Regions from separate parts of the Homo sapiens genome. Here region 1 is linked to region 2. The links come from fine-mapping of genetic effects on plasma protein levels. A gene starts in region 2. The other region holds a variant in brackets. All regions are shown on one strand. Distances are between the middles of the regions. Region 1 overlaps ERAP1 (endoplasmic reticulum aminopeptidase 1). Region 2 holds the start of ERAP1 (endoplasmic reticulum aminopeptidase 1).

Region 1 (12,059 bases), 31 kb after region 2:
GAGGCACAAAATTGTTATGCTTGGCAAAATGTCCTGAAGTCTTGTTGCATAATTTGCTCTCAAAATTTAGTCATGTAAACTCTCTTTGAGTTTGTTTTAAAAGTCGCAATTCATCCTGACTTTAAGTAGATGGATATCTTATAAAAGTTTGTTATGAAAATATGAAAGTCATTCATCATTATTTATTGTTTTTGGCCCTTTTATAATTAAACAGTGCTGCATGATTTATACAGTAAAAGTTAGATTATGCTTTAAAAATTAGCCCCCATCATCTGAGACCATAATGGATTATATTAACATGAAATGACCTGTGACAATACTGGTCCCTGTTTCCCTGTACAACGCCCTCAGGCCTTCCTCATCAGGCTGCTAAGGGACCTCATTGATAAGCAGACATGGACAGACGAGGGCTCAGTCTCAGAGCGAATGCTGCGGAGTCAACTACTACTCCTCGCCTGTGTGCACAACTATCAGCCGTGCGTACAGAGGGCAGAAGGCTATTTCAGAAAGTGGAAGGAATCCAATGGAAACTTGAGGTCAGTCCTTACTAAATAACCAATTTGTTGATGTGAAGGGCATCTTTTCTGTTTTCCATCATTGGTACTAAACATTAGGGAAAACAAAAAGTTTAAGTGTCTCCCCTGCTGCCCTTTTCTGGAAAATAAATTGCTTTTTAAGATTTATCTATGTATCTCGTAACTTTAAGAAATGCTAGGAGGGAACTTCTATGCATAAAAGTCAAATATCTGGGGAGTTAGGATGGTATGGGAATAATTCTCATTTTGTATAGGCAATGCAAAATCTTATTAAACGGTGACAGCCATGCCATAGAGAAACACATGCATTGTATTTTATAGTAGTTTCTTTGGGCTTCCAAATTCCCTGACAGGGATGCATAGTAATTGCTGACACTGTCTAAGCAAGGTAGGATTTTACCGTATCTGGAAATCCCTATTCTTGCTACACTTCAGTCCTTTTTACATTTGGAGCTTAAACCCCACCCAGGAAACATTTATGCCAACAACCTACATGCTTCAGCTTAAAGAAATCCAAACAGTGGTCCTACTGCCGTCCTGACTTGTGATCATGGTGTAAATTTTGAATATAGTTTGAATTTCTTTTGGCTTGAAAGGTGATCCCCTATGGAGTCACCCAGCATCATTAAAGTATTTAAATATGTAGGTATTTATAAAAATGGCATTTCACATTTTTGAGAAGGCTACTTAAAACCTAATTTTAGATATTTTTCTCTTGCCTTTTTTTTATAAAGTGTAACTAGGCCAGGCGCGGTGGCTCACGCCTGTAATCCCAGCACTTTGGGAGGCTGAGGTGGGTGGATCACGAGGTCAGGGGATCAAGACCATCCTGGCTAAGACGGTGAAACCCCGTCTCTACTAAAATACAAAAAATGAGCCGGGCATGGTGGCGGGCGCCTGTAGTCCCAGCTACTCGGGAGGCTGAGGTAGGAGAATGGCGTGAACCCGGGAGGGCGGAGCTTGCAGGAACCGATATCGAGCCACGGCACTCCAGCCTGGGTGACAGAGCAAGACTCCGTCCTAAAAAAAAAAAAAAAAAAAATTGTAACTGAAGGAAATCAGTAGTTTTTGTTTATATTTCCAGGCATGCTTCTCTGATCATGGGGAAAGTTCAGCAGTTCATAGTTAGTCACCATTATGCCTCTAAACATACTTACTGCACCTCAGATTCTCACCGAGTGTGTTCCTTTCTATAGCCTGCCTGTCGACGTGACCTTGGCAGTGTTTGCTGTGGGGGCCCAGAGCACAGAAGGCTGGGATTTTCTTTATAGTAAATATCAGTTTTCTTTGTCCAGTACTGAGAAAAGCCAAATTGAATTTGCCCTCTGCAGAACCCAAAATAAGGAAAAGCTTCAATGGTGAGTCCGTCATTCATTCATGTTCATGTGGCCAAGGGAAATTAGATTAGATTAGATCATTCTGGCATCTATTTTTGTTTTCTTGGCCAGGAATTGCCTATCCTGCTGGGAACATACTGCAAGTCAGCACACATCTAATGAGAAAGGCAAATAATTAGGGAGAACCAGGTGTTAGGAAAAATATTTAAAGGTGTATACATTTGTGCATCTTTAAAATGACAACATATTAAAAATATTTACTAGAGCTACTCTTCCTTAACTATTCTTTTGAGCAAATGAGAGGGTATATGAGAATGGGTGTTATGAACACTATATAAATGTTAGTTTTTATTATGTAGCTATAGTGGGTTTATCAGGATTGTGGTTACCCATTTATCTTTTTAACCTTTGTTACTGGCAGACTTTTTTTTCTTTTACAAGTAATTTTATTGCAGTGATTCATAACTGTTTCATCACCTATTCATTGCTAACATTTCTTTTCTTAATCCTTCTAGGCTACTAGATGAAAGCTTTAAGGGAGATAAAATAAAAACTCAGGAGTTTCCACAAATTCTTACACTCATTGGCAGGAACCCAGTAGGATACCCACTGGCCTGGCAATTTCTGAGGAAAAACTGGAACAAACTTGTACAAAAGTAAGTGGTGCCAAAAATTGTGCTGTGACTGGATAAGTTCATAACCTTACTGTGTTTTAGCCTTGCTGTTTGTAAAAGAACAGTAACAGTCTAAAGGTACTTTTTGATTGAAGATAGGCAGTAGAAATACCTAAAATATTTGTAGAAAACATAAAACTGGACTTCAGTGCTAACTAGTGAATCTGGACAGGGATGTTTTCCATTCCATCTGGCATAACCCCTTCCTGAGCCCATGGACATATCTGAAGCCTTCCTCCTCACAGTTCAGCCCAGGCCTTCCATGAACACATTTGCTTGTTCACATCTGTCTTTGTCTAACTCTTATAGCATTTCCTGCTTCTGTCATTTTCTGTTGGATACTTAACCTTTTATTAGGCTGTTGGTGTGTATTATTCTTTACAGCTAGATCTTAACCCATTGGATAGACATCATATTTTGTATTTTTCACACCGATCAGTTTTTAGCTGAAAGCTATTATATATAGGAGGCCCTTAAAATATATGTTAAATGAATAAGTATTTCACAACCCGTTTTTGAATATTTCCCTCTCTAGGTTTGAACTTGGCTCATCTTCCATAGCCCACATGGTAATGGGTACAACAAATCAATTCTCCACAAGAACACGGCTTGAAGAGGTAAAAAAAAAAAA[T/AT]CTATATATATATTTTTAAACATAAATGAAAATTAGCTAATTAATATGGGGTAGACAAAATACTTTGAGGGTGTGGTGAGTTAGAAATGGATTGTCATTTAGAAGTTATTTTTGGATGCTATGGTGTTGACAGCAGCATAAATCAGTTGCAATTAAACTAGTGAAAACTGTGCCTCTTCTCAGACACGTTAAGAGGTCTTAGCTCTGCCAGTAAAAACCTTAGGACTTGAAGAAAATTACTTGAGACAATTAGTCCTTGTTTAAGGATGTTAAAAGTGGGCACTGAGGTATAAATGACTGAAGTGGTCATCCAGCTGTTGCTAAAGAGGCAGGTCCGGAATCTAGGTTCTTTATAAACCATCCAAGTTCATGGTTCCCTGTCACTTATTATGTAACCATCTACCTTCAGAAAGAATTTCAGGCAGCTTTAAGATCCATGTATAAAAGAAATGTTAAAATGAAGGACAAAAAGATACATAATGGACAGGTGATAACCATGTGAGGGACTTATGGCTGAGGATAATTCTCGCAATTGTCCCCTGAATTTATCACAGACATTCCTGGAAGTCAAGGAAAAATGAGGAATCAGTATGAGTTATTCTCATTGTCTGGTAAAAGAGAACATGAAGCATACACATTTTCTACAAAAGCAGACTTTTCTTCAGTCCTAAACTCGAGGACTTTGATGTGTGGGCCATTGAGTTCTGTGGTGTCCCTTCTATAATAAGGTTTCCTATAGTAAAGTTGTGGAACAAATTTTACAAGGCTCTTAAACTGTGGTACATTTAGATAAAAGCTGAGAGGCTAATATTAATTTTTTTAGGAGTGGTTCCATTGTGTAGTCTGGTTACACTATTTTCTAGCTTGAGATGGGGAGAGAGCTTTGGAAATGAAAAAGAATGAAGGGTTGTTACAGTCTCGTAGCTTTTTTCCAGTTTTCAGTAGCCTCATCCAGGCTTGTAAAATTAACTTGCATATAATAATTCAAGCTTGAACTCCAGCGAGGTCTAGAGCAGAGATACTCTGTCTGATGACTGAAGAGATGTCCAAAGCCTTGACCAGAAAGGTAGTCATCTATAGACAAGATCTATAGCAACAAAGCATTTCATTCATTCACTTGTATTCTCATTAATTCATTCAAGACATATATGCCACACATGGTTTTAGGTTATGGGGCTGTAACAGTGAACAGACAGACAAAACCTTTGCTGTCACGGAGCTGAAATTTCTGCTGTGGGAATCAGACAATTACAGACAAATCAACCAATGTCAAGTAGTTACATGCTCTGAAGATGAATAAGGCAAGGAGAGTGATTGGGATAGAGGGTTGGTGCTGTTTTATAGGATGATTAGGAGACATTTGAGAAGATATCGAAGGAAATGCCAACATCTAGAGGAGTATTGTGTGCAGAGGAAATATCAGGTGCGAAGATCCTGAAGCAGGGCATGAAAAGTAAAGAGCCCGAGATGTTATCATAATGGAGAGCAAACTACGGACATATAAAATACGGGAGTCATCCTGAATCCTTTCTTCCCCAGACATCTAACTACGCAAGTCCTGCCGGTCTTCCCTCAGCACATGCACTGGATCTTGCGCACTTCTCTCTGCTCTTACCCCCATTCAATCCTTTCTCATCTCTTGCCTTGCCTATTGCAATAGTGTCCTAACTGGCCTCCCCCTTGCCACTTTGCCAATAGCAAAACATTTTCCACATTGAAGACTGCAAGTCAGCCCATAACTGACCCTGGCTTCTTGAAACCCTGCCTATTGTTCTTGCAGTAAATTCCAAATCCCTCCTTCCCATGTGTCCATGACCTTGAAGACCTGGCTTCTGAGGACCTCTCTGGTGCCAATTCCCACAGGCGCTCCTGGCTTACTCTCTCATAACACTGTAGCCACTCAGCCTCCTTCTGCTCCTGGGCTACCACATGTTTCTCCTGTCTTTAAGCCTCTGCACTTTTTATTCTCTCTGCCTGGCTTGCCCATTCCCCAACTTTTCACTAGAAAGGGGCATTTTATCTTTGAGAGGTCTCGGCTCAGATCACCTTCCCCAAAACCATGCTGTTCAATGCAGGCCACATCTCCTCAGTTACTAGCATACCCCTGGCATATTTTCTTCATAGCAGTTTATTTACAGTAATCATATTTACTGCTTGTATACCCCAAAAGACTGTAAGCTCCATGAGGGGAGGATGCTTGCCTGATTCACTGCTGCATCCTCAGTGTCTAGCACAGTAATTACAGCAGAGGGATGAATAAATATCAGAGTAAATATTGGTGAACAAATGGATGAGGTTAAGTCCCTGATACATGCTGGGTTTGGGGCTTTGCACTTTACCTGCATTATATAACTACATCCTTCACCACTGCTCTTCATTTTACAAATGAGGAGACTGGCTTCCATAGAAGTTAAATCATTTGCTCAAATCAAGTTAGTAGGATAAACCTGTTTTCCTATCCCTGTATTGTGCTACTTATTGCACAGAAATTGTTCTTAAAGAGCCAAGTCTGAATCAAATATTCAGTGGAGATGTTGCATTTCCAAGGCAGGTGAAGACAGAAGAGATGATTTTGGGTCAGGACAAGGGTAAGAGTAATGGTTAACAGCTGGCTTCGCTGTTGTAGAAGGTCTGTTTTTAGTGGAGCTATCATGATGAGCTCCTTTAGGATTAATGATTTGAACAATTAGTAAAATTATTGATGTGCTTTGTTGAGTAGTGCTCAGTGATTTTTAATCGACTGTGAATTAATCTTGCATTCTGAGAGCGTATGAAACAGTAGGTTGAGCTACAACTTAAAGTAGAGAGTGAAGTGTTTTCCAGGTTGCTACAGCAGGAGGCCATGCCTTCTGCTCATTGTAAAGTTGCACTGTATTGACATATAATTTTAAAACAACTCTGCATCATTTAAAATTGAATTCTGATCTTTCTAAAACCCATTCCTACTCCCCTCTTTATTCCCAAACTAATAATATGGTATTATGACATGGATTTCTAAGGAACTGGCTGTCTGGAATCTATGCTGAATAAATAATACATCATGGTCTACATTCGCTTCCTGAATACCAAATCAAAAATTGATGGATTAATGCTGTGAAAATTTATGGGAAAAGGATAATAACCCTTTAAGGTGAAACAGAATCGCACAATGGTCAATCTTGTGGCAAAGCCAGCCTATCTGTCATGTGAGCTCAAGGGGTGAATTAAGATACCCACAAATGAAACAAGAACAAACATATTTTTCAGGAGGTAGCCAAGAGTTTCTTATCTCTTTAAAATCATGGGGAACTTTATGTGGATTTTATCTTGAGACAACAATACATGAATTGTAGATTAGGATAAAAAAAATGGCAAGGTTTGGGTCTTACCGCCATAACTTGCTAAGAATCCCATTCCCCACAGTGTTTCTATAATAACATACAAGGCCAGGCCCATGGAGAAAGACAGCACTTACGTGGTGGAAACTGTTTTGCTTGGCAAAGAAAAGACTCTGCACATTCTGCTTTTTAGATATCATGTTTTTAAAAAACGAAGTTTGCATCTGTGAGAACAGAACAGAATAACACATTAAATAGACACAATTAAACCTTAATTATAAAATGGTAAACAGTGAAGTCTTTTAAAGTCTGGCAACTGAGAATAAACAAAAGAACTGCAGACAAAAAACAGAACTTGACATCATGAGGCATGAGCTCATTTCATACAGCTTATGTGTACATAATCCTATTCAGACAGCTGGGACTGCCTTCTATATAGAATTTTGACAAATGCTGGAATTTTGGCTTCAGTTTTAACTAAAGTTACATCTGATTAATGTGATAAAATTAATTTTTTAAAACCCACTTTTTCCTCACAAGGTAAAAGGATTCTTCAGCTCTTTGAAAGAAAATGGTTCTCAGCTCCGTTGTGTCCAACAGACAATTGAAACCATTGAAGAAAACATCGGTTGGATGGATAAGAATTTTGATAAAATCAGAGTGTGGCTGCAAAGTGAAAAGCTTGAACGTATGTAAAAATTCCTCCCTTGCCAGGTTCCTGTTATCTCTAATCACCAACATTTTGTTGAGTGTATTTTCAAACTAGAGATGGCTGTTTTGGCTCCAACTGGAGATACTTTTTTCCCTTCAACTCATTTTTTGACTATCCCTGTGAAAAGAATAGCTGTTAGTTTTTCATGAATGGGCTATCGCTACCATGTGTTTTGTTCATCACAGGTGTTGCCCTGCAACGTAAACCCAAGTGTTGGGTTCCCTGCCACAGAAGAATAAAGTACCTTATTCTTCTCATTTTATAGTTTATGCTTAAGCACCCGTGTCCAAAACCCTGTACCCCATGTTTATCATTCATAAACTGTTTCATCAGTCTCCTCGAAAGACTCTGAATAGTCGACTACTGAACAATGAACACCTGGATCTGAGACTAAGCCGGACGATGACTGGGTTAAAGCTCTCCCGGCTCACCCCTCCAGACCCGCTGCCCATCCCTCTTCCTTGCTCCATGCCCAGGGGCTGACTTGTAAAGGCCAAGTCATCAAGCTTTCTTGCCCTTTGGATGTTGGTCAGTGGGGAGCCGGAGAGCTGGAGCTGGGGTCGGAGGAGGTAGTAGGTGGAGGTGTTCTTCCCTGATTCCCTTGCGGGATGCCTCGGGCTGGCCTCCCCTGAGGGTCTTAGCTCCGAGAGGGGACCCTCTTTTCCACACAGCCTTCTCCACCTCTGGATTTTGGTAACTGCTCCCTCCTCATCCCTTCAGGATTAGTGGCCTCAGTGGGAGTCTGGCTTTTACTAGTCCTGGCGGACTTGTGGTTTCTACATAATGTGCTCGCACTTTTGCAAAAAATCTTTTTATAGAACCCTCCTCAGATAATTCTGAGTGAGTGTCATCTATTTCCCTGACTGGTACAGTATCTCTTCTGAAAAAGCAGAGTGCATTCAAGTCTGTAGGAAAACCCTTTTCTTAGGGAGGTGATTTTTTTTCTCTCTCTGCTTCTTATTTGGCCTACTTTACAATTTCTAACTAACTAGTTATTGGCATTTACTGACAGTAAATTATTGCAGTCACCAATAAATGATAGTACATTGTGAAACAAAATATTTGCTCATATTAGCAAATAGGACATTCTTTGGCTTTGAAGTCTTTCTTTCTTTTGTGAAGACTTCACACACGGTTGCTTCAGCACACAGTTGCTGCTCAGGTTTTATGTATAGATGATAATAATAGAAAGCACAGTTTACTAACATGGTAAACCAACGGAGTTCAAGTCAAGTCAGTTAATACCCTAAGAATTAGATTTTATTTCTTATTCTGAAAACTTGCTACACAGGGACTTATCTAACCCATAGTGTGCTCTGTTGCTGACTTGATTCAAGTTGCAGCGTGTTTTGCGCTGACTCTAAGGTGCGGAAATCCTCACACCTGGCAAAGGAGAATTCAAACTGAACTTTTTGAATATAAGGCAAAAACTTCAAGATAAGGGAATATGATTGATGATTGGTACGAAAAATGTCAAAATGTGTTCCCCTAATACACGACAAAATAGAGTGACTTCTGGACATAAATCTGCCATTTATTAAACCATTCACTACAACAAATAAATAGGTATAAAAGTGGAATTGGAATTTTTATACTTATTTGTTGTAGTGAATGGTTTAATAAAAATAGAAATCACTGGTAATTTCCACCCCAAACTAAACTATTTCCCTTCTTTTAAAAAAATACACAACCAAGATTTTAATGTAAAATATTTTGCTTTAATTGTATTTTATGCCTTGATTAATGAAACATGGAAATATTGATTTTCAGTTTTGGTCACCTGAGGAACCTATCTTTGTTTGCTTTTGGAAAAGCCCATTTTCTAAACAGATACAATATTGCCACAACAATGTGCAGAAACCTTTTTGATAATAAAAAATTGTTCTTTGCCTCTAAGTGGATATTTGCAATTATTTTCTCTCTCCTAACTAGACTGTAAAAAGGGCTGCTTTAGATCCTGTAGCTTACTCCAGTTATTAGTTATTAACAAACACCCAAGTCTCGAAGATATTTCTAATTAAAAAAGAAGGCATATTCAGAGTTCTTTTTAAATAAATGTTGTTTACTTTTATAGGCATCTTTAAACTTCTGGATTTTGGTATGCCATTTAAAAATACTTCCAGATACACATGGAAATTAGTAATACTGAAGCCGTATCCTTGCAAACACATCTGTCAGTGTCAAAGGTTTCAAGGTTTTTCTTAAAAAAAGAAAACAAAAAAGCAAACACCTATACTGCCCAAATGGGAGGATTAGATACATGGTTAGAAATCCCTCAGGAAAAGTGTTTTTTCTTTTCTTGTTGCTGCCTTAAAAATAGAATAATGACTATTTCTGATGGATAGAGACATAGCATTTTAAGCTGGTGGTGTGTAAAATCCCATAGGTATGTGCATGACTTTCAGAGAGTATTTGGGGGGGAGGTTAACAAGATGTGGTGCCATTTATAAGCAGTGTTATTGTTTTTGCTTGCCCCGCTGCCACAAGTCAGCTAAGTCATAACAAAAGCTTCAAACTGATGCTAAGGAAGGCCATGCCCTTTGGAAACAATAAATTCCCAATCTGTTTTATGTTATGTACCTGACATCTTTTCCTGCATTCTCTACCAGGAAATAAAGATGAAATTAAATATCAAAATTCTAATCGATGATATCAGTGCAATGTTCAGGAACTATTCATTAAGATATTAGAAAACCATTCAAAGTGGTAGGACATCAGAGCCTACTTCTTACATTGCTGTGGGAGAAATGCAGGTTTCAAATTTAATATATATATATAATTTTTTTAAAAGCAGAAGTTTCTTTTTATATTTGGTAAACTTAAGTTCCATAAAGCCAGACGCTATACAGTGCAAAGGCTAATGTGGCAATAGCTCTAAAGACACAGTTGCTGCTCAGGTTTTATGTATAGATAATAGAAAGCACAGTTTACTAACACAGTAAACCAACAGAGTTCAAGTCAGATGAGTACCCTAAGAATTAATTAGATTTTATTTCTTATGCTCGAAATTTGCTACACAAGGACTTATCTAACCTTTATTTTGCTCTGTTGCTGACTTGATTCAAGTCTCAGTGTGTTCTGTGCTGACTGTAAGATGCAGAAGTCCTCACACCTGGCAAAGAAGAGTTCAAACTGAAAAGGGGTTTGGTGCTTCCTGGTTTGTCCAGGTTACCTGTTATTAATTTATTATTAGCAGCCCAAGAGGAGATATGTGCCCAATGTACAATATCTTATGTTTGACTTATAAACATTATCCCAAAGCAACATCAAATACAGTTCAAAAGCCCAAGAGGAAAGGGGGTAATAAGAAATCAGAACACTGAAGAATGTTTAAAACATTGTTTTCTAAACACTAACAAAAAAAATTAAGGGCAAACTGAAAATACAAATGAGATTTACAGGCACTGTGTGTAGAATGTGCAAAAATTCACTTAGCTTTTCTTTTGTTTTTTTGGTGTTGCTTTAAGAAACTTTATCAAATATATTTCTTACAAATATAAAGCTTTCTCTCCCAATTGAAGGCAATTAAAAAAATTCAAAGTTTATCAATACTCAGTACACAGGTGAACCAGTCAAATTCATTTTCTTTCTGGAAAAGAATAACAAACCAATATTTAGGATGTTCAGAGACTCAACAAAAACCATTCTAGAAATCACCCAGAACAATTGTTTTCTGTTGCCAAAGCCTTTTGTTCTTCAAAAGTCACCATCCACCAGCTGAAGATTTTACATGCAGATACCTTAAAAATTTCAAATAAAAAATGCAGTGAATCATTTAATATGTAATTTTCTTGTTACAGACATAGTAAATATACCACTTAGCAAAAGCATTGTATAACAGACAGAAGGAATTTCCTATAAGTAAACATGAAAGTGGATTAATAGAATTTTTTTTAATTTTGGGAAAAATGTTAGAGCAGTTCTACCTAATATAGCTCCTTTTTTCCTAGGAAATAAACATGGATCATGGTGAGAGAGCTGAACCCGATTTAACCTATACTTTGATTTCTTTTAGGCTTTGGTCAGTAAGTGCTTGTATGCTTTTAAGGCTTACATTAAGCCCTCTCCTTTCTGAAGATTAAGATAAGGGCCCAGTTCTGAAGATCTCAGAAATCCCTTCAATCTGTCCAGTTTCTTCAGCAATTATAAATTAGAATCAAACACAGTACTTTACTTTCCAAAATAATGACAAATAAAAATGGCCAATCTTTTCCTTTGCCCTTGTTCCCAAAACCCTGTAATTTCCACCAGACTCTAAAGGGTACTTCTCCCCACCCCACCATGTATTGGTATTCTGGGGAATGCCAATGTCTTCAGGACATTTCGCTAAGTTGTAACATGCTAATTTTGCTTTGCCACAATAACCTGCAGTAATGAGCATTTGGATTTCAAAGATTCAACTAGCCTCAGATGGTCATTCTAAGTGCCTGGCCTAATATTTTTAAAAGCTTTTAATTATAAGATTAAGGTTTTTAAACATTTCAATAGCAAACTCATCCCATTTAGTGCTTTCAGAGAATGACCAATTACTCTGTAGATCTTGCAGTATGCATTTCATGCCAATACTGTAAAGTGAGCATGAATTACTCAAGAGGTGGACTTCACTTCTCTCATCTATAACACATAAATTGGCAGAAGATACAGTTGTCTTCATTTACAAATAAACACCCAACTTACCAGATACCTTAACTTGTATTTCTTTAGTCATCTTTTGGCTTGGAAGTTTCCTCTGTTGTCTAAAAGGGAAAGCAAAACCATCCGTGAGCTTTCTTTTCTGTATTAAGTATGAGGAGATGGCCTTCTCAGAATTAGGGGACAAAAGATGGCAGTCAGTGGGGAAAAATAAGATGGT
Region 2 (15,850 bases):
GCCTAAAACCACAACGCTAATGTTATGTTAATGGCATTATAGTGAGCTGGGTCAAATTAAGGACATTTAGGTTGATTTGTTGCACCTGTGCCTAAGTTGAGACCGTCCCTGCTGAGCAACATCCTGGCATAAGGGCAAGTTCTTAACCACATTTCTTCCTGTTAGCTGCAGAGGCGGGGTAGGTGCTGTCCTGCAGTTGTTCCTGTGAACATTGTTCCTTTCTGTCCCTTCTCCCTAGACCCTCCATCTCTATCTGCCTATCCAGCCCCTAACTCCTCTCTCAGTGCTTTCCCTCCAGTACATACCCATATTTTAATTTTCAAGTGTGCAATTTTCACATGTATAATTCGTTAAGAAAGAATGCAAGGGAACGATTCAGATAGTCATCAACAAACTGCAGCTGAGTCCAGACTCTGTCTACCTTTCTTCCCTCTTCTGTTTGCATCATCTCCAATAGTTTTTCTAGGATCCAAAACTGATACTGATGCTGCCCAGTTTTTAGTGCTGGCCCTTTGAGGTTCACTGATTCTCCTACATTTTCTGGCTAACGTGTGGAAAATCTGCTTTGTTCCTAGTACAACAGTGATAAAATAATTTTTTATTCCCCTAAATTCCCAAAAGTAGCTTATACTTGCCATGAAGTTTAGGCTATATCTCGATCTCTATCTTTCCATTTATCTATCCATCCATCCGTCTATCCACACATACATATATGTGTCTATTTATCTCTCAAGATTTACAGTATCAGAATTTTTCAGAGTGTGGCTCAGGAATCTTTTTTCTGTTAAGCAAGTTTCTTAAGCATTGTGATGTATTTTTTTGCTTCAATTTACTTATTGCATCTGTTAATAAATTACTGCTTACAAAAACAGTAAAGAAAAAAAAGAATTAAAAACACCTTAATGGCTGAGTGTGTCTGTAATCCCAGCACTTTGGGAGGCCGAGGTGGGTGGATAATTTGAGGTCAGGAGTTCAAGACCAGCCTGACCAACACGAAGAAACCCCATCTCTACTAAAAGTACAAAAATTAGCCGGATGTGGTGGCGCATGCCTGTAATCCCAGCTACTCAGGAGGCTGAGGCAGGAGAATCGCTTGAACATGGGAGGCAGAGGTTGCTGTGAGCCGAGATCACACCATTGCACTCCAGCCCGGGCAACAAGAGCAAAATCCCATCTCAAAAAAAAAAAAAATAAAAAACAAAACAAACAACAACAACAACAACAACACCTTAATAGTTTGGGTGTTTTATTTAGCAGTGCATTTACAAAGATCAAATTAGTGACATAAACTTTGAGTTTTCTATTTTCATCTTTTAGAATGGGAACAGTCAGAATGCTAAACTCACACAGATTTTATAAAAGTTTAGCAATCTACCACCAGGACTGGAAAACCAAGGGAAAAAACAAATCTAACACAATGCTACAGAAACAGAAAAGCCCAGAATTCTTGCTAATTTAACTGAAGTTTAATTTTGACATCTTTGGCTGATCCAACCACTCAGTCTTGGTCTCTTTCCCTTCTCTTATGGACAGGGAGTTAGGTAATAAAAATCAGCCAAAGATTCTCAAAGTTCTGCAGAGGTAGACATGGGCTGGTCTTGCTGCCAGAGCTGGTTAGTACTTTGGGTCTTTCTAGAATATTTGGTGTTAGGCCTAGATAACTCAGCTACATCTGTAGTGCTTCTCTGTGGCTGCTCAGTTTATAATTCAGGTCTTGCTCGGACCCCTAGTCCCAAGGACACCTTTTCCTTTGTCTTTCTGTTAAAAGTCTCTTCAACTTTGAGCTTCCATTGGGCCTATACTATTTTCTCTAGACTGTAAAGGCTCTTTCTACCTTTAATCATCTTCTTCACCGATGTTCAAATCCAGTTATCGGGGCTTGGTCTCTTTGTTGGTCAGGATGTCAGCTGCCTTCTTTCTCCTGAATTTGGCATCACTTCTGATGAGCATAAGCTAATTCATTTTTCCATCAGGAAAAAAGCTATCATTGATTTCTCATGAATATCTCTTATTTGGGAGATATTCCTATTTTCAGCTCAATGAAGAACCAAATCTTTCTAGTCTCTAGAATCTAGTCACTTCTGTAATTTCTTCCCAATTATCCACTCACCAGTTATTTTTTTGATATATGTCTCCTTCCCTGCCTCAAAAACACAGACTATGCCAATCCTAAGATTATAATAGTAGAAATATCTTCAATGTGCAGTAACATTAGTGTGGCAGACGTAATCTAAGTTGCCCCCATGATCCTTGCCTCCTGGTATTCATTCTCTTGCATAATTTCCTTTCTTTTAGTGTGAGAGAAACCTGTGACTTGCTTCTAACCCATAGGATATGGCAAGGAACTAGTCATATCTGAGAGCAGCCTCCAGAAAACAGTCAGCAAAACACTGAGGTTCTCAATCCGATAGTCAATGAGGAACGGAATGCTGGAACAATGATGTGAGCTTGGAAGCAGATCCTTCCCTTCTGCTGGGCCTCAGGTGAGACTGCAGCTCCAGTCATCATCTTGATTGCAGCCCACAGAAACTACCAACCCACAGAAACTGTGAGTTAATAAATGTGTTGTTTTAAGTTGATATGTTCGTATTATTGATACACAATAATAGATAACTAATAAAATTAACAATAAGAGACACTTTTCCTCCAAAGGAAGGAAATGGGCCATTTTCTTAGACAAGATAGTAAAAAGTGACAAGGAAAACTTCCTAAACAAATACCATAACAGTTGGATTCACTAAAAAAACATTATAACACGAGAACACATATTTGAAATGATTTAGCTCTTTATGGCTTGATCTGTAAGGCTATCTTTTAGAATTTCTTTTAGCTAGATATAACAGAATGCTAACTACAGTTTGTTAAACAAGTAAGGTAAGGTGTTTATCTTCCTCGTGTATGAAGATGCCTTATGCAGGCAGTCCAGGCTTTTTTTTTTTTTTTTTTTTTTTTTTTGAGATGAGTCTTGCTGTGTCGCCAGGCTGGAGTGCAGTGGCACAATCTTGGTTCACTGCAACCTCCGCCTCCTGGGTTCAAGGGATTCCCCTGCCTCAGCCTCCCAAGTAACTGGGACTACAGGCACGTACCACCACGCCAGGCTAAATTTTTGTATTTTAGTAGAGCTAGGGTTTCACCATGTTGGCCAGGACGGTCTCGATCTCCTGCCCTCATGATCTTCCTGCCTTGGCCTCCCAAAGTGCTGGGATTGCAGGCGTGAGCCACCGCGCCTGGCCTAGAGGTCATTTTAATTATTTCCCTAAACCTGCCTATTAGACTACTCTTAAAATTTTTCAAAGGCTTAGAGATTATCTTGCATTTTAAAATGTTTATGCCTAACCTGTTGCCCTTCTCTTCAATTTGATAGCTAGTATTTCTTTGTCTCAAAGGGCCTCTAAACACTTCATTTGTTCATCCTTTAGACAGCTTTGTAAATAAAACCAAGCATTCCTCCTATGGTCCAGACAGCTTCTTAAGGACAGATAAAGTCAGCATTCCTAAGCACCAGGGTAGCCAAGGGAGTGTTGTAGGTTTATAGGGGTAAGATAATGTCTCTTTCTTCCACTTCCCACCACTTAGTTCAAACCCATAAGTTTAAATGAGATAAGGAGAACTGTCTCTTAGGAAGGGTTGGGAAAGAAAAAAAAGAAAGGCTGTGGTGGCCTGAAGACCACTTGAGTCATTTCTTCCATAATCACAATCTAATTTTCCAATAAATTGCAAGCATTCCTAGAACCACAGACTTCACTTAAGCCAAACTCTGTCAATTTCACACTGCCATGTATGGATGAGCATAAATGAGTTTCTCTTTTCAGGCCCCAATTGTATATACTTTACAGAACTTCATTGAGAAAGTTATTCGTTTCTTTCCTTTTCTCCTTTGTATCATAGCTCATTTAATTTCAATATAATAAAATCCATTAACCTTCTAGAAACTAAGGTTTTGAAAAGTTATTTTTCCCATGTTTAGTTATTGCAACAGATATTCATTATAGCTAAGGCAAGACAGTTAGTAGCATAACACCATGGTCCCTCAAAAAATAACAATAAACAAATCTACATATTTTTCATCCCAATATTTTTATCATTCCTTTAGGCATATGCAAAGATCATGTTCACTCCTGGCTGGATAATTCATTCTTTCTTTGTGAAATAGCTGTGGCAGAGGGAGCCATAAATAAAATAAAGCCTCCTAAACAAAGGTTTGCTTTAATCTGTTCATATTGACAATATCTAGTAAATTCTGATATTTCAAACAACTCACCATAACGGGTATAGATCTGGGTTTTTAAGAAATTGACATGATTTATCCAGACACATTTGTGGGTTTTCTTTGAAATAGTAGAGCTTTACTGACTATGACACTTTGCATTTTAAAGAAATTTCATTGCTTTCTCTTGTGTGTCATAGATAATTTTTATATAACTGAATTGTGATTCTCCAGTAGATAAATGGACAAGAAACATAAACATATAATTCTCAAAAGAGAAAACACAAAGCAAAAACGGCTAATTAACATATGTTCAGTGCATATATTCAGTCTCATTAGTGATGAAAGAAATACAAATTTAAGAAATATGTCATGGTGACTTACCTCCTTGTTGACACGAGCAAAGGTAAAAGCAACAGGAATACAGAAGACTGGCTAGAGAGCAGTTAGATGGGCCTGTCACCTACTGAGGAAGGTTGGAGACAGGTGGATTCCCTGGGTTCTGTAAGGCTGCAAGAACTGGAAACATGCTCAGGTTACCTTAGACAGCAGTATCTTGTGAAATAAATGCCTGAGGGAGGGAAAATGGGAAACATGTGATCAGTCCTCGTGGCACCTAGAATGTTCTTCAGGATCCACAATTCTAGAAGTTCAAGGGCAGCTGTGGTCACTCAACTTGCTTGAGTTGTTCCTACAGAATCTGGCATACATTGCTCGCTCCCATAGTGCTCTGTTGTATGGTAATACAGGACTCTCTCTGAAGACTGACTCCAACTGGCTAAATCAAAAAGGAAAGCATTGGTCCTCTTGAATGGAAGGTCTAAGGACAGGATTTGCTCAGGACAGCTGGAGCTGAGGGCTTTAGTGGAGGTATTCTCTGTCTCTGTCAGCCCTGCTGTCCTTTGAACTGGCTTCACTTTAAAGCAGGCTTTTTCCATGTGGTGGCCCCTGGTAGGTCACTTCACATCTCTAATCCTGTTTCCTCATTCTAGAAAAATGGAGCTACTAGCCACCTGCATAAGTACAATGTGAGGATCCCATGAGATAGACTATATGTAAATGCTTTCAAGCTGCCACATTTCAGAGGACTTTATTATTTGATATGAGCTCAGTGGCCTGTTTTGGAACAGTCTTTAACATGGCATCTGTACCGTCTTCCCTGTTTCTGATTATTAATAAGATGGTATTGCTTTTGTTAAGCAAGCCTGCTCTGCAACTTGGCACAGAGGGGGAAAAAAGTCATCCTCTTTATCAAGAATATCAAGAATGAGGGGCATTATTATTTTTTTTTAAATTGGCATTTAAAAAAATTAAGTTCTAAGGCCCTGGGAGCCTATGGAAGAGTCTCAAGGACCACAATGTGTGTGGAAGGGCCGGATAGCAGTGGGCAAGGCTGACTGGGTGGAGCTGCCCTGTTTAATAAGAGCAGGCCTGCTTTTGTCTGTTTTCTACACCATGATTCTGGATGAGATTTTACATCAAAAAGGAGAGTGGTAATATGATTAAAATAGGAGCAGCTTTGGCAGCAAAACAGAAGAAATGAGCCAAACGCTGACATTAATTGACTAAAAGCTAATGAAAGCAGAACTGAATCAATCAATTACAGCAAAATTGAACATCACTTGACAATATCTAGAATTCAATATTTTTTAAGTAGATCAGTAATAGCTCAAAGTGGTATGTATTTCATTGGCCTAGGCCTGAAATTCTCCTCATTCCTCTGGCTCACCTCTGGGACTAAGGACACTGAGAAGCCTCTGCAATGGATGGGCTCAACCGGCCAACCAGCCCTCCTACACTATATGGTATACAATATTAGTGTTTACCAACCCCTCCTTGTTCTGGCCAATGCAATGTGAGTAGAATTAGTGTGTGTTTTCTCTTTGACTCTGAGCAAGTTGCCGACCTGTCTCATTTTTCTCATCTATAAAGCATAATATCTACATTACAGGGTTGCTGAAGAGATCAAATTATAAACACACACATGCACACATAGCTAGCATTTAACAGTATCTAACAGTTGGTAGGGAATCAATAAACCTAGGTACCCTTTCTCTCTGTTCCCTTCCTTCTAACCATTTCTAAGCTCGGTAATGTGCTGTTTTGATCTCACAGGCTCTAGAACTAGGACTCCTTAAAGTCCTTACTCCAAGGTCTGTGTCCTCTACATCCCTGCTAGGGCTTTGAAACTAGAAGTGAATGCTGCCAAATCCTCTGACTTATCGCTCTTTGTAGTGCACTTCAACTCTAAAGACGAAATCACGGCCAGGGCGACAGGCTAAAGTCTGAGTCAGGGTGAGCTTTTGGGGAAACGGCGTGGAGCGGGTGGTGGTGTCAGCTCTCTCCTCGCCTACACTTCAGCTCCTTTCTGCCCACATCCATTCAGGGCATTGCCCTGTTTGTCTCCTCAGCTGTCTTCTGTATTAACCTCCAGCCTGTTGGGTGCATTCAGTTCTGCCAGCTGGACTTTCAATATGTATTTAAAAAGACACATAAACAAAAAACAAAAACAAAAACAAAAAAACTTTACTAGAAGCCAAAGGAAAACCATCATATTCAAAAATATAAATATAAAAGCAAAGAAATGCATACATTTACTGGACAAAGAGGTCTCATCTTGAGTAAACTGGGAGCACTCCGAGATGTCTGGAGGTCTTGGAGGCTACACGCTATCCATTGATACCTCCTGTCAAATTCTGAACATGCAGAAATTACCAGATCTCAAAGTCCTCATTTCTTGTTGAATTTTAGTGAAAAAAACTTCCCTGGATCCCACCGTAGTTGAGTCTTGGAACAGGGTGTTAATCTTTATATTATAAAATGTCCTTGACTAGAGATAATAGGCAGTATGAAACATTATATTTTTAAAAAGGAAACATAATATTGAAAAAAAAAGAGAAATACTGTTGCAGTGACTTGGAATCCCCAGTTCTCAAAGGGAAGAAGGCCAATAAAGAAGTGGGAGAAGAAAGTCTGAGAACCGCATGAAAAGGGTCCTGTTCCCACTAGGACCATGGTCCACTCACCAAATTATCAGAGACGTTTGAACCAGAGCAACTCCATCTTGAATAGGAGCTGGGTAAAATAAGGCTGAGACCTACTGGGCTACACTCCCAGGAGGTTAGACATTCTAAGTCACAGAATGAGATAGAAGGTAGGCACAAGACACAGGTCATAAAGACCTTGCTGATAAAACAGGTTGCAGTAAGGAAGCTGGCCAAAACCCACCAAAACCAGGATGGCAATGAGAGTGTCCTCTGGTCGTCACTGCTACGGTCTCACCAGCTCCATGACAGTTTACAAATGCCACTGCAACGTCGGGAAGCTACCCTATATGGTCTAAAAAGGGGAGGCATGAATAATTTCCCCCGCTTAGCATATAATCAAGAAATAACCCTAAAAATGGACAACCAACAGCCCTTGGGGGTGCTCTGCCTATGAGTAGCCATTCTTTTATTCCTTTAGTTTCTTAATTACTTGCTTTCACTTTACTCCATGGACTCCCCTCAAATTCTTTCTTGCGCAAAATCCAAGAACCCTCTCTTGGGGTCTGGATCGGGACCCATTTTCGGTAATAAACTTGTAGCATTTGGTGTTTTAATGTTTGTGTTTTCTTGACTTGTTACCTCATTTAGCCTCAACTGTTTAAAGATGGTCTTTTTGGCCATTTTATTCAGCTTTAATTGTTCTAAGGGGAGTGAAGAAATGGTCATTTACTTTGAAAAATCAGAGGGAACGTGTTGATGCGGGAAGCAGCTAATCCTTGGGGTACAGTGGCCCTTGGTAGTGCAGGAAAGTCCTGGGGGCCACCTCTAACCCACCTTCCTCCTCTACAGCATCTCCCACTGTAGTCATTCTCTACCGAAGCCCCAGAAGGTGCGGCACTTTGCCACGACAGAGTACTGGGTTCATGTTTCTTTCCGAGGCGGGCCAAGAGCTCTCAGCCCACTGGCAGTGGCGAGATGACGGACACCCAGCGAGTCCAATGGGCGTCGAACGCGTCTAGGCTTGGTGGACTTGTCAGCGCCTGCCTGGCTTCGGTCCCCAACTTGAGCACCGGCCCTTTCCTGCATGCCCCTAACCCTCGCAACGCTAAACAGTGAAAAAAAAAAAAAGACAAAAACAAAAAGCATCTCAACACACACACACACACACACACACACACACACACACACACACACACACACACACACACACACACACACACACACGGATCCGCGTTCAGAAAGGCGTGCACTTCCTACGCCTGATCCCCCGCATCGCAACCTCGCAGCTTCCCCGGCGTGCAGCGCTCATTTACCAATTCCCTTCCTGGGAGTTGCGGCTTCCCTCGCTCGGCCCCACTCCCGTTTACCCTTTCCCCAGCTCCCGCCTTAGCCAGGGGCTTCCCCGCCTGCCGCTAGGGCTCGGGCCGAAGCGCCGCTCAGCGCCAGCCTGCCGCTCCCCGGGCTCCACTTTCACTTTCGGTCCTGGGGGAGCTAGGCCGGCGGCAGTGGTGGTGGCGGCGGCGCAAGGGTGAGGGCGGCCCCAGAACCCCAGGTACAGCGCGCTCGAGCCGCGGGTAGGGGACTGCGGGCCGGGAGGAGAGCGCGGCACCCGCCCCTTCCCTGCGCCCGTCAAGTGGGGGGCTGAGGGCCTGGGGCACGGGAGGAGGGAGACGGGGCACGGGAGGAGGGAGACGGGGCGCGGGAGGAAGGCGACGGGGCGCGGGAGGAAGGCGACGGGGCGCGAGACAGGGCGCGGGAAGGGCGGGGGGAGTCGCTGGCTAGGCCCGAGTCCGCGGGGTGCCCGGCGGGTTGGCGGCGGGCCCACCCCTGCCGGTCCCTGTCCCTGTCCCTCCGGGCGCGTGGCCGGTGCGCCTGCTTCACGGGTCTCCCCGCTGTTCGGCCGGCGGGAGCCTCCCTCAGCGCTCCGCCTGGCGCCTGGATGCCTGCCAGTCCTGCAGGCCACCGACGCCCGCGCGAGGCCAAAAGGCGGGGTGGGGCGGGCAGCTGGCTCGGGCTGAGGAGGGCACCTGCCCATAGCTGCTAGAGAAACCCAGAGGCTTTGGGTTAAAGACTCTGGTGGGGTGGGATGCGCGGGCCGTGTGTGTTCTTAAGGTCACTTCCCTCCCTGCTTCTCCTGTTCTTCTGGTCAGCAATTCTCTCTCTCCCCTTCGCTCTGGCTCTGGCTGGGTTTTATTCAGATAAAGCACCTCTGTTGACGCAAATTAAAAGTTTCCTATCTGGGTGCCTCACTGGCCAGGTGGTCCTACAAAGTTAATTCCATGAGGGGAAGGGGGAGAGCACACACTTCCTCACGCTTTTGGATTTCTTTGTGTAGGCTAGGTTCAGAAAGAAATTATCTGTTTCCTATTAAACACCCAGAGGATTCGCTCTGAACTCAGGACGTGGTCAACAATTAACAAAACAACAAAACAAAACAAAACAAAACAAAAAACTTGAAAATTGGGCACAGTTGTCTCTTGCCTGAGGATTTTTAATTAGTATAAGTAGCACATTTTCAGGTGCGGCCTGAATAGAAACATTCTAGTACTTTTTTTTTTTTCAAATTAATCCAGCATTTTTATTATTTACCAACAGTGCTTGTTAATTTCATTGTTCAGGAAATTCTGGAAGAACCTCAATTACTTCTTGATGATCTATTTCATATACTATAGTGCCCCAATAAAAGGAAGGGAGGCAGAGGTTGCAGTGAGCCAAGATCGCACCACTGCACTCCAGCCTGGGAGACAGAGCGAGACTCCGTCTCAAAAAAAAAAAAAAAAAAAAAAAAGAGGGATCTTGGTGAAGCTGAAAAAGCAGGGAGTTTATACTCACACAGATGTGGATTGCATTCCAACAAGTTGTGTGAACTTAGCAAAGTTACATGAATGGTTCTTTGCTTCAGTTACCCCACCTTGAATGAGAATAATAGGCTATTAGAGAGAGTGAGCATGTGTAAAGTGCCTGGCACTTTGGAGGAGCTTAGTAAATATTAGTTCTTTTTCCTCCTTGGCTTCTATTCCTTTAAGTGTTAGTGGAGTGTAACTTCAAAGAGAATTGTACTTCTCTTGGGAAGAGCTGCTTATATTGAGTAGACTACTGTTTTTGAGAGCTTTCTTTTTTTTTAACTGCCTCCCTTTCAGAAAATTGTTAGTAAAACCAGACCCTAGGAGACCAGCCAGAACCATGAAATGCCATGTTTCAAACTGGAACACTTACTATTGGAAGCAAAGCCAAACAAGAGCTAATTTTTCAGGGGAAGAGCCAAACACACGAACATGATCACAGAATCTTGGATGTAGCCTACAGTTTGGGATTAATAAGAGAATTTATTAGTGAAGCCCTTTATTCACTACATGGAGTTTTTACCAAGCCCCACTCATGCACTGCATCCTCGTTGAGACATAACTGTTTCTCTTTGGACCCCTCATGGACCCAACCCTGCAAAGCCTCTGATCCAAGGTCCCGGTACCAACCCCTTCCGCAGCACATCAGCCTTTCTGTCAGCTCATAACGAGTTGGAATTTCTAGATCTTCTCTGGGGCTGTTGGAGAGGTCTCGGGGACTTTCAGAGTCCTTACATGCTTGAACCTGCCACCTTCACAGAGTCCTCTGGATCCCGTCTTGGGGCAGGGGCGATGCTCATTAAGCTGTTGCTGCCAGTAATTCCATATGGAAAGCAAAACACAAGTTCCATTTACTCTCTAGTTCCCCAACTTCAAGGGCAAAAAAATGTTCTCCCTGTTCACACTTCCTGTCTCACCTGGGTGGTGCCTTTTGAACTGGGATTATGAGATTTCCAAGACTCTCTCTAATGTGTAGGTATCCTTTCTGTTTAGCCTCCAGATTGCTCCAGAGGTGAGGAGAAGGGAATTCCCTTGAGCTGTGCATTTGGGAAGGGAGCAAGGAAGTCAGGGGTTAGGGAAGGCACTTCAGCCATTGCCTTGAATTAGTATCCTATCACATAGAGTTGAAGGGGGAAAGCCAGGATTTGGCAAGGATGAGCTTTTCAACCTTGGCTTCTCAGTAAAATCTCTGGACAGTTTTTTTTTTTTTTAAAAAAAAAAACCAAAAACCAGAAATTAAACAATCCGTAAAACCATACCCCGATCTTATCACCATAGGTTCCAGTTTAATTGTTGTCAATAAGGACCCAGGCATCGAAAATTTTAAAAGCTTCCCAGGTTACATTAATATGCAGCCAGAGTTAGGAAACTTGACATCTCAGAGAGGGAGAATTCCATGTACTGTGAACACTTTGAGGGATCCACATTGTAAGCTTGCTACTTTTCCCAACTGGAACACGAGGAGTTTGGGCCAATCACTTGCATTCACCTGGTATGGGCCCCTCTTGGCAAACACCCATTAGAAAGGTGCGTTTGTATAAAAGAAATAAAAACTTATGTTTGATGCTTGGGGCATGGTTTGCCAACTTCCTTAAAATTCACATTGCCTTTTTTTTTTTTTTTTAAAGACAGAGTCTTGCTCTGTTGCCAGGCTGGAGTGCAGTGGTGCAATCTCAGCTCACTGCAACTCTGCCTCCCAGGTTCAAGCGATTCTCCTGCCTCAGCCTCCCAAGTAATTAGGACTACAGGTGCGCACCACCACACCCAGCTAATTTTTGTATTTTTAGTAGAGACGGGATTTCGCCATGTTGGCCAGGATGGTCTCAATCTGTTGACCTTGTGATCTGCCCACCTCATCCTCCCAAAGTGCTGGGATTACAGGCGTGAGCCACCATGCCTGGCCTGAAATTCACATTGCTTTTATGTCTTTAAAATCAATCCAGGTGATTGATACGTTTGCCACAAACTACTGGGAAAATTAAGCTCTTTAAGCTCTTCCTGGCTAAATAAATAGGTAATTAACTTTTGGCATGACAATTTGAGGAAGACACTGATGTTATTAAAGGTTACCATTACATATACTTACAGGGGAAGTGGAGACCTCGTTCTAGTGGTGGCTGCCACTGTGTCAGCATTTGATTTCCAGGGTACTAGGGTGACTTTCTCCAAGGTCCAGTGTCAGTGGGGAGTGGTGCTTGATCAGATGTTCCTCTGATATGGTTCTGGTTTTGCTTCTTTCATGAGCCTGGTTTCCCAAATGTCCTGCAACTCTGTGACCCGTGTAGTGAGCCACTCAGGATCCCCTAATGATTCCTTTTCTGCCTATATCAGCCAGAGCTTGTTCGGTTGCTTTCAACCAAGAACCCTGACAGGTAGAGTTAATTTAAACTTTGAACATCAAATGATGCTTTCTAGTACGTGTTAATGATTGTTGCTAACTGTAAACATCTTTCTTATATGAAACCATAACATAGGGAAGGTCCTTTTACTTTCAGGAAAAGACCTAGTACTTTTGGAAGTTTATGCCTATTTCTGTGAATGCTGGGTGGATACATTCTGAAATTATGCTGTGTCAATAACATTTTAATGACATATATTTTTGCTTTTGTACATTTGTGCCGCTAGGTAGGTAGAGCAAGAAGATGGTGTTTCTGCCCCTCAAATGGTCCCTTGCAACCATGTCATTTCTACTTTCCTCACTGTTGGCTCTCTTAACTGTGTCCACTCCTTCATGGTGTCAGAGCACTGAAGCATCTCCAAAACGTAGTGATGGGACACCATTTCCTTGGAATAAAATACGACTTCCTGAGTACGTCATCCCAGTTCATTATGATCTCTTGATCCATGCAAACCTTACCACGCTGACCTTCTGGGGAACCACGAAAGTAGAAATCACAGCCAGTCAGCCCACCAGCACCATCATCCTGCATAGTCACCACCTGCAGATATCTAGGGCCACCCTCAGGAAGGGAGCTGGAGAGAGGCTATCGGAAGAACCCCTGCAGGTCCTGGAACACCCCCGTCAGGAGCAAATTGCACTGCTGGCTCCCGAGCCCCTCCTTGTCGGGCTCCCGTACACAGTTGTCATTCACTATGCTGGCAATCTTTCGGAGACTTTCCACGGATTTTACAAAAGCACCTACAGAACCAAGGAAGGGGAACTGAGGTATTTTTTTTTCTCTTTTTCTTTTAAACTGCAAGTGCTGCCCACGCTAAATTCATTATTTCAGATTGATTGTCTTTTAAAATTCCCTTTGCTGTTGAACTTTTTCTTCAGTTTTGCTTTTGCATCTTCTTTATAGTGTTAAAAATGGCTTTTTCCCTTGCTTTTTAAATCTCATTTTAAAATTCTATTTTAACCAATTTTCTTTCCCCCAGCTCTATCAGAGTAAATATCTATTTGTTTATTTGGTTCGATTTCTGAGACATAATAAACATGTTTAATTTTCCTGAACTGTGTATTAGTTTCCTAGGGCTGTTGTAACAAAGTACCACAGACTGGGTAGCTATAAACAACAAAATGTATTCTCTCTCAGGTCTGGAGGCTAGAAGTCTGAAATCAAGGTGTCAGCAGGCCCGTGCTCCCTCCAGACTCTGGGTAGAATCCTTCCTTATATCTTCCTAGCATCTAGTGGTGGCCGTGGATCCCTGGTACTCCATGCCTAGCACCTGCGTCATTCTAGTTTCTCCCTCTGTTAGTCGCATGGCCATTCTATTTTCCTATGTCCCAGTCTCCATCTTCTTATAAGGAAACCAGACATACCAGATTAGGGCCCAGCCTGGTGGCCTCTTCTTCACTCCATGATACTTGTAAAGACCCTATGTCCAAATAAGGTCACATGCACAGATACTACAGGTTAGGACTTCAGCAAATCCTACTAGCAACATATTAGAGGAAATACTTTTATCTCAGTTAAAACTTTTTTAGAGATCTCTTCTCACCTTGCTTTGGTTCTGTTTTTAAGGAGGAGACTTATTTGGGGGAGATTTTATGCTCAGTTTTAAAATGGAATTTTATTTGTTGGTAGATTATACTAATTTATTTTTCAAATTCCATATTATTTTATCAAGGTAAGAAAGTAAAATTTATTTCACTCATAGCCCCCTGAACTGACCACTACTTCTATTTCACTGGAATATTCTGCCAGACTTCTTTCTGGATATGCATATATATTATTTTATATAAATAGAATTCTTATATTTTCTCTTTTACAAGGAAATTTTTTAACTTAATATGTTGGGAAGATGTTTTATATAAATGACTATTACTAGACATCTTTTTAATGATTTTATTAAAATACATAGTTGTACATTAATATCTTTAATCCCTCGGGAATGGAAATGAAATTGTTTCCAATTTTTCAGTATCAACAACACTTTGATGAGCATTTTTGTAAATTATTTCTTTAGAATAAATGCCTAGAAGTAAAATTGGTAAGCCAAAGAGCCTATAAATTTTTGATAAACTTTGTCATTTTTTCTTACCCCTCACCAATAGTGTATATTGGCAGTCTTTTTAGAGCAAAAAAGGTCCCCAAATAAATGATCTCTTTTTAATTTACGTAACTTTGATTAAGGAAGTTGAGCAGCTTTTGATATGTTTGTTAATGATTTATAGGTTCTTCTTTTATGAATTGCCTGTTAATGACCTTTGACTTTGCCTGAGATTCCCTTGGTTGTTGGGGATTTTTTTTTTTTTTTTTTTTTTTTTTTTGTCGAGACGGAGTCTTGCTCTGTCACCCAGGCTGGAGTGCAGTGGCGCGAACTCGGCTCACCGCAACCTCCGCCTCCCGGGTTCAAGCAATTCTCCTGCCTCAGCCTCCTGAGTAGCTGGGATTACAGACGCGCACCACCACACCCAGCTAATTTTTGTATTTTTAGTAGAGATGGGGTTTCACCATGTTGGCCAGGGTGGTCTCGAACTCCTGTCCTCGTGATCCGCCCGCCTAGGCCTCTCAAAGTGCCAAGATTACAGGTATGAGCCATTTTTAGGATTACATATTTTTAGGATCTCACTATCTGTTAAGGCTATTAAGTTTTCCTCACATACTTCTTAAATGAATTTTCCCTGTTTTTTACTTTTTCTTTTTAACTTTTTTTTTTTTCTTCCCGAGACAGGGTCTGGTTCTGTCGCCCAGGCTGGAGTGCAATGGCGCAATCTCAGGTCACTGAAACCTCTGCCTCCTGGGCTCAAACCATCGTCTCACCTCTGCCTCCCAAGTAGCTGGGACTACAGGCCTGCACCACCATGCCTGGCTAATTTTTGTATTTTTGGTAGAGATGGGGTTTTACCATGTTGCCCAGGTAGGTCTCACACTCCTGGGCTCAAGTAATCCTCCCACCTCAACCTCCCAAAAATGTGTTAGGATTACAGGCATGAGACACCATGACCATGCCCAGTGTAACTCGTCTTTTAACTTAGTTTATGATAGCTTTTGTCAGATGAAATATTTTTTAGTAGCAAAATCCATCAATCTTATAGTAACTTTAGGAATTAAAAAGCAAACACCTGTTTTAGAGTTCCTGGTGCTTCATGCTCAATTTTTATTTCACTTGCCTTAATTTTAGGATACTAGCATCAACACAATTTGAACCCACTGCAGCTAGAATGGCCTTTCCCTGCTTTGATGAACCTGCCTTCAAAGCAAGTTTCTCAATCAAAATTAGAAGAGAGCCAAGGCACCTAGCCATCTCCAATATGCCATTGGTGAGTCTGCACTCCTGTGTATTTTCTATAGGAAAATCTACTGATTCTCTGTGACTTGCACTAGCCCAGTGACAGTCAACATTGGGTCACCTGTTTTGTTTTATTG

What was found. PIP is the chance, under the fine-mapping model, that this variant and not a neighbour inherited with it causes the effect. Protein levels are from the aptamer-based SomaScan assay of Sun 2018.
Region 1: its variant is fine-mapped to the plasma level of the ERAP1 protein (Sun 2018, PIP 0.95).

Annotation. Positions count from the first base shown.
Region 1 is chr5:96,771,528-96,783,586 of GRCh38, reverse strand. ERAP1 (endoplasmic reticulum aminopeptidase 1) reads left to right here. Exons shown (of 19, transcript NM_001040458.3): 15 at 352-536; 16 at 1,733-1,894; 17 at 2,389-2,529; 18 at 3,083-3,164; 19 at 7,036-9,103. The coding sequence ends at 7,191. CAST (calpastatin) reads right to left here. Exons shown (of 32, transcript NM_001750.7): 31 at 11,885-11,943; 32 at 8,904-10,947. The coding sequence ends at 11,908. Among named protein-coding and RNA genes, the nearest start is that of ERAP1, 30 kb to the left of the region's middle. RefSeq lists an enhancer at 2,016-3,215. The variant T/AT (reference allele first, on the strand shown) is at 3,179.
Region 2 is chr5:96,800,756-96,816,605 of GRCh38, reverse strand. ERAP1 (endoplasmic reticulum aminopeptidase 1) reads left to right here and starts at 8,661. Exons shown (of 19, transcript NM_001040458.3): 1 at 8,661-8,746; 2 at 12,663-13,203; 3 at 15,606-15,744. The coding sequence starts at 12,680. It overlaps LOC124901033 (a long non-coding RNA gene), which reads right to left and starts at 9,148. Exons shown (of 3, transcript XR_007058879.1): 1 at 8,029-9,148; 2 at 4,592-4,778; 3 at 1-2,529. RefSeq lists enhancers at 7,981-8,050, 8,207-8,706, 8,707-9,208 and a silencer at 8,781-9,240.